Homo sapiens: one gene and its partner. The gene in region 1 interacts genetically with each later gene. Each region holds a gene or a part of one and is shown on either strand. Other genes may lie near its edges.

Region 1 (3,239 bases):
CAGGAGGCGGAGGTTGCAGTCAGCCAAGATTGCACCACTGCACTCTGGCCTGGGTGACAGAGAAAGAAAGAGAGGAAAAGAGGGAAGGGAGGGAGAAAGAGAGAGAAAGAGAGAGGGAAAGGGAGGGGGAAGGAGGGAGGGAGGGAGGAAAAAGGAAGGAAGGAAGGAGGGAGAGAGGAAGGTGGAAAGAAGGATGGGAAGAAAGGACAGGAAGGAAGAAGAAAAGAAGTCCATCCATCCCATCCATCATGCTTCTTCACCTGTCCAGTTTCTATCTATTATGGAAACCCATGATCTAGGTTTCCCCACCGTGGGAACAATGTTACTTAACTGCTTCAGCCCAGGTAGTGGTTTTATCACTAAATGGGAAGATTTCTGTCCTAATCAGTATCCTGTCAACCTAGTAGCTTAAGGACAAGCATTAGATTTCAGCTTTTCTTTCCTACCTTTTTAGTGGGGCCGCTCCTTAACTGAAAACAATTTCTCAAAAGTACTCTCCCACTATTTCTGCAGACCCTCTGGAGACTTTGGGGTGTGGCTGGTTCCTGAGCATATCCAAATGGTGCCTTCCCAGGTGTGTGTTCCCATCTTTGTGCCTCACAACAGTTCACTTGTATTTTCCCTCTTTGTCTGGCAGGACCAGTTTGACATGGTGAGTGATGCTGACCTTCAAGTCCTAGATGGCAAAATCGTGGCCCTCACTGCTAAGGTGCAGAGCTTGCAGCAGAGCTGCCGCTACATGGAGGCTGGTAGGACTGGGTAGCCCCTCCAAAGTGCCCATAGGCTTAGGTTCATTCTAGAGGTCAGGAATTACTAAATGAATGGTTCAATGACTGCAGCATCTTGTTGCAGCTAAGACCCCTTTGCTGGGCTCCCTTAGGCATAAAAAGAAATGTAGGATAACTAACGGCTTTTGTGTACCAACAAATGGACAAGATACGCATTTGTTCTCCCTGCCACGATTATCAGTACACTGTCCCCACGTTTCCCTTTATTCCTGCTTCTTTAACTGGCTACGCCTAAGTAAGTGTTCAACCTCACACCCACGCCACTTGTAGATGGAGGAGGAAAGAAAATTAGAAGAATAAATAATCCTGTATGGCTTAGTTTCCATGTGAGATGATAGATCCAGAGCAAGGTGGAACACCTCAGGGAGCACCCACTGGGAAAGACAGAACTCCTTCCTCAGGGGTAGCAAGTGACCCCAGGCGGATGTGGTTTCAGAGCTCAAGGAATTATCTAGTGCCCTGACCACACCAGAGATGCAGAAAGAAATCCAGGAGTTAAAGAAGGAATGCGCTGGCTACAGAGAGAGATTGAAGAACATTAAAGCAGCTACCAATCATGTGACTCCAGAAGAGAAAGAGCAGGTGAGCTGGAAGGCTGTAGGACCGCTGTGCAGGTCCAGAGTGAACATCAGGGCTGAGCCCCAGAGGGCTGCTGTGGTTCTGAGGAGTTAGAGGAACTTGCTTTTTCCTTCTAGGTGTACAGAGAGAGGCAGAAGTACTGTAAGGAGTGGAGGAAGAGGAAGAGGATGGTAAGTGTGTGGGAGCTCCGAGACAGGCCCTGGAGGTGCCTTTGAAAATGGCAGGCACCAGATCAGCCGCTACACAATATCATAAACTGACAGGCAGTGCCCAGTGCTGCCCATCTGAAAACGGGTGGTTTTATTTCTTGTCAGGCTACAGAGCTGTCTGATGCAATACTTGAAGGATACCCCAAGAGCAAGAAGCAGTTCTTTGTAAGTGGAGCTCTCTTCCTTCTTTGCTTCCCTGTGGTCTTATCCTGGTGACATCTCATTCACTTGTCTCCCTGTCTCACAGGAGGAAGTTGGGATAGAGACGGATGAAGATTACAACGTCACACTCCCAGACCCCTGAGGGGCCCACGGTCAGGACTGGTGGGGACTGCAGGATGTCAGAAGAGTGAGATGTCTTGCACTGGCTACCTTGTTTTTGGTTGGCTTTTGTTGTTGTTCCTGCTACTTTCACCTTTAAGCAGAGCAGTCAGGAGACAAGCATAAACCAGAGCACTGGGTAGAGAGGATGAGGGCTGGTGGCTGGGGGTAGACCCAGCCCATTTCATTGTCTAAATTGCAGTAGCTTGAGGTTAACATTTAGACTTGGAACAATGCTAAAGGAAAGCATTTGGCAATATTTATTATAATTTAATTTTATATAAAAATATTTAATTTCCTCTGGATAGTCAAACCTGCCAGATATCAAACCTGAGGAAGGCAGAAGTGAATTTGGAGAACTAGGGTAGAGAGAGGTTGCTATAAAACGAGCATTTGGAGGGCCCACGGCTTCACTCAGGACCTGCTGGGCTTGTGTACCCCAGGAGCCCTTTTAAGTATCTTTTGTACGCTTTTCACCCCACCCCCAAGTCCTGGGAGAAATGCAGGCAACACTGAGACATGGGAGAGGCCAAGATATGCTTGACAGAAAGGGTGATTTTGAGGCTCAGTTAATATTTCAAAATTGTAACCGTAGCAAAACTGCATTGGTATTTAGAAAAATAAAAAATTTCCAATATGTAGTGCTGTGTTATACCTGCCTCTGCCATGCAGCATCATAGCCTGTGGGAACCGGGAGGGCTTCCCTTACCACCCAGAGCAGAGGAGGAAGGTGATGGAATATGGGGTGAGGGGAGGAACCTGGTGGCCCCTCCCTGAGATGGCCAGAAAGCCCTTGGCCTCACCTGGGACTGACCAGGCAGCCCTAGTCTAGGCACAAGGTGCCCTTTCACCCTTCATGGCTGTGGGAATATTTCCTCTTACTCTTTTTCTCCCATACAGCTACTGCCAAAATGCCCAAACTTGGGCCAAATGTTGCCCAAACTTGGGCCAAAAATGTTGCCCAAGAGACCAAAACAGAGGAAAACAGTTTCCAAATCTATGTAGATCATGAGCAGAAATCTGAGGCTTGAATAAAGGGCTGAGAGGGCAGGAGCTCTTTGGGGTGTCCAGAGCAGACGCCCATCCCAAGGACTTCCATGGAGTGGGGGGAAGGCTGGGTAGGTTTGAGTTTTATCGTCAATATAATAAATTAATCAGAAGCTTTCACAAAACAAACACCGCGGCTCCGCTGAAGATAAAATGGGGCTGGGAAAAACCAAACACCAAGTAGAAACCAGCTGACCAGTGTGAGGTGTTGTAGTCCAGTCTCCCGGGCCCAGCAGTTCAGTGGCCACGTAGAGATTCAAGGGCCTCTTGTTGGCTGTTCTCCAGGTTTCCAAGA
Region 2 (3,819 bases), about 11 Mb from region 1:
TGAATTGGAGTTCCTTAGCGGGGGTCTTAGTTTTGTTCTGCTATTCAGTGCCTTTGTCCCTATCCTAGCCATTAGCTTTCCTATAGATCCTTGATTTCCTCATCTGTTGAAAAAGAAATGGCTAGAAAATCTTTTAGATTCTTTCAAGTTTAAATATTCGATGATTTTAATATTCTAACAGCATGTCTCTGTGACCCAGCAGTCTATTGGGAGCTGACCCCACTTGATTTACCAAACTCTTTCCCATTATGCCTCTGCATGCACCTATGTTCCAGGCAGGTCACCTCAGTCTCTTCTGTGTGTATCATGCTTCTTCCCACTTCTTGGCCTTTATTTCTGCCAGTCTCTGCCTGAATGCTTTAATTCCTCCTTTGTGCTTTTCTAATTCCTGTCCATCCTTCAATGTTCAGCTCAGATTTCATTTTTTTTTTTTCCCCATGAGGTTGTTTCAGACTAAACTCTGCTATCTCACTTCTTGGTATCCTTGTTACCTGGAGTTTTACAGAACCACACAGTAAGTTTTCTTCCTTTAGGAGGATTGTTTGAACACAGCTTGGCTTTGTTTTCTTTTTTTCTTGTCTTTTTATCAAATGGAGTGCATACTTTCTGAAAAGCAAAGAACGCTATTTGAATTCTCTTCTAGTCACCCCAGTGCCCAGCACAGTCTTAAACACACAGAACATTGATGGAATGTTTTTCATATGATTCCTGGTTGAAGGGTAGACTGGCTAAATAAAAAAAGTGGTACTTTTGGCTTTGTTTTACTGAATTTTACTTCCATGTTTGCAATAGCCTAGGTCTGATAAGTGATATTTTAACTAGGAATGAGTAAGAAAATTAGCATAAAGAAGGAATTTATACATATTTATATTTCCTCCCATAGAGCAAACATGTTTTTTGAATCAGGTTTCAGATCTGATCAACTACTTTTGTAATTTTGGATTTGTCACTTACTGTTAGGATATTTTGCAATGGTGTGATAGAATATGAATGTGAAGCACTTTGAAAAGTCTAAAATTTTTCTAATATAAGATTTATATGTTTTCTTTATAGCTTATTATTATTATTATTTTTTGTGTGTGTGACAGAGTCTTGCTCTGTCACTCAGGCTAGAGTGCAGTGTAGCTTATTACTGATTATTGTGTTTTCATTAAATAAGGGAGAGTAGGCCAGGTGCGGTAGCTGATGCTTGTAATCCCAGCACTTTGGGAGGCCCATGTGGGAGGACTGCTTGAGGCCTTGAATTCAAGACCAGGCTGTGCAACATAGTGAGATGCTGTCTCTAAAAAAAATTAGTTGGGTGTGGTGGCATGTGCCTGTAGTCGCAGCTACTCAGGAGGCTGAGGCAGGAAGATCACTTGAACCCAGGAGTTCAAGCATACAGTGAGCCATGATTGTGCCACTGTACTCCAGCTTCGGTGACAGAGTGAGACCCTGTCTTCCAAAAAAAAAAAAAGAGAGCGTGACTAGTCTCTGGATATTCCTTTGTATGTACCTTGGCCAATATATACCTTACTTTAGTATCCATTGACAAGTTCTCTTTTTTCTTCTTCTTCATTTTTTTTTTTTTGAGATAGAGTCTCGCTCTATTGCCCAGGTTGGAGTGCAGTGGCACGATCTCAGCTCACTGCAAGCTCCACCTTCTGGGTTCAAGCGATTCTCCTGCCTCAGCCTCCCAAGTAGCTGGCATTACAGGCACGTACTACCACACCTGGCTAATTTTTGTATTTTTAAAAGAGACAAGGGTTCGCCATGTTAGCTGGTCTCAAACTACTGACCTCAAACAATCCACCTGCCTCAGCCTCCCAAAGTGCTGGGATTATAGGCATAAGCTGTGGTGCTGGTCTAATATTGTTACATTTTATTTTAAATGTTCCTGTTTTTTGCCCTACTCTTTTTATTTGACTTTTTAACCATTAGGAAATTAGATTCTTTTCTCAAATCTGCTTTATTATTATTATTATTTTGAGACAAGTTCTCGCTTTCTCGCCTAGGCTGGAGTGTAGTGGTACAATTTTGGCTCACTGCAACCTCTGCCTCCCGGGTTCAAGTGATTCTCCTGCCTCAGCCTCCCAAGTAGCTGGGATTACAGGCGTGTGCCACCACACCCAGCTAATTTTTTTGTATTTTTAGTAGAGGCAGGGTTTTACCATGTTGGCTAGGCTGGTCTTGAACTCCTGACCTGAGGTGATCCGCCCGCTTCAGCCTCCCAAAGTGCTGGGATCACAGGCTTGAACCACCGTGCCTGGCCCTATTTTTGTATTTTTACTATAGACGGGGTTTTGCCATGTTGGCCAGGCTGGCCTCAAACACCTGCCTCAGCCTCCCAAAGTGCTGGGATTACAGATGCAAGCCACTGCACCTGGCCTTAAGTCTGCTTTTAAAAAATGTTTTGGCTGGGTGCGGTGGCTCATGCCTATAATTCAAGCTTTTTGGGGGGCTGAGGTGGGAGGATCACTTGGGCCTCAGAGTTTGAGACCAGCCTGGGCAACAGAGTGAGACCCCATCTCTACAAAAAGTAAAAAAAACAAATAAAAAAAAAATCAGCCAGTGTGCATTGGTTGAAAGTAAAGAAAAGAAAAAAAACAGACAAATTAGCCAAGTGTGGTAGTATATGCTACTTGGGAGGCTGAGTCAGGATTGCTTGAGCCCAGGAAATTAAGGCTGCAGTGAGGCATGATTGCACCACTGCACTCTGGCCTGGGTGAGACCCTGTCTCAAAAAAAATTTTTTTTTTTAATATGGAGAAAGTATTTTTGTTTTTCGTTTTTTATTTGGGTACCGGCCACTGCACCCAACCAAACATTTTGTCCTTAAACAAAAGTTTAAGTCATATAATACAGTAGTAAGAATGCCTTATTTTTTACATCTTTGTTCTTTAAATTACTCAGATTGCTATGGGGCATTTTTGTTGTAGCTTTCAAATTTGGTATTCTGGGGTTCTATGTAGACTCTATATTGTTGCATTCTAACGACATACTTTTAAGGATAAGCAGCGTATTAATTAAAAATGTGTTTTCCACTTGTGTTCCTTAGGTCTGCGTATATTTTGGAGGTGTGTGTGTATATAAGTCAAGGGACAGGAGGTATCGGAAGGCTCTAAAGGAAGTTTAAGGAGGAGAATATTCTATAGAAGTGGAAGGGGAGATTTGTGGTCAGCTTAAACTGTTAAAAGGCTTGGGATCAATACCGAAGCAGAATATGAGCATCTTAATCTGTTTCTTTGCAAAGGATTGACTTGTATTTATAAAAGCATTGGCTTGTTTCATCTGACATCTTTTAAAGTACCCCATTTTCTTGGGGGCGGGAAGGGAGAGATGAGACCATTTGTTTTGATCTTGAAGGACAGAAAAGTGGTTTTACGTTGTAGTGACTGTGAATTAAGTTTAAGGTCTCAGCAAGTTGTAAATTTCTGTATCATACTATGTGGTAGAGCCTTCAGTAAACAGAGTACTCTCAGGTGTTTAATGCTATAGGATATAAACTATAACTGCTGTTTATAGTACCCTCGCTAAATTCTCTTAAAGGCAATCCATTTGACCACTTCAAATGTTATATGCCTGTGATATATAGTTATATTCTCTGCATATAACTGGTTTTTAAAAATTGTTTATTATTCATTTATTTTAGAAGTGAGGTCTCTCTTTGTTCCTCAGGCTGGAGTGCAGTGGTGTGATCATAGCTCACCATAGCCTCGAACTCCTGGGCTCAAGTGATCTCCCACCTCCCGAATATCTAGGACTATGGGCGTGCGCCACCATACCTGGCTATTATTTTAATTTTTTTCGTAGAGACAGTGTCTTGTTATGTTGCCCAGGC

The links.
Region 2: changes in PSMC3IP (region 1) and NF1 together harm fitness more than expected from each alone (negative genetic interaction), as found in Homo sapiens cells (one large-scale study listed by BioGRID).

The regions. Positions count from the first base shown.
Region 1 is NC_000017.11:42,571,609-42,574,847, reverse strand, and holds the end of PSMC3IP (homologous-pairing protein 2 homolog), read left to right. Parts: intron 1-513; exon of another isoform or gene 514-532; intron 533-637; coding exon 638-749; exon of another isoform or gene 750-1,029; intron 1,030-1,224; coding exon 1,225-1,370; intron 1,371-1,483; coding exon 1,484-1,537; intron 1,538-1,644; exon of another isoform or gene 1,645-1,681; coding exon 1,682-1,741; exon of another isoform or gene 1,742-1,823; coding exon 1,824-1,880; 3' UTR 1,881-2,538; downstream 2,539-3,239. UniProt on the Homo sapiens protein: Plays an important role in meiotic recombination. Stimulates DMC1-mediated strand exchange required for pairing homologous chromosomes during meiosis.
Region 2 is NC_000017.11:31,101,294-31,105,112, forward strand, and holds part of NF1 (neurofibromin), read left to right. Parts: intron 1-3,819. UniProt on the Homo sapiens protein: Stimulates the GTPase activity of Ras. NF1 shows greater affinity for Ras GAP, but lower specific activity. May be a regulator of Ras activity.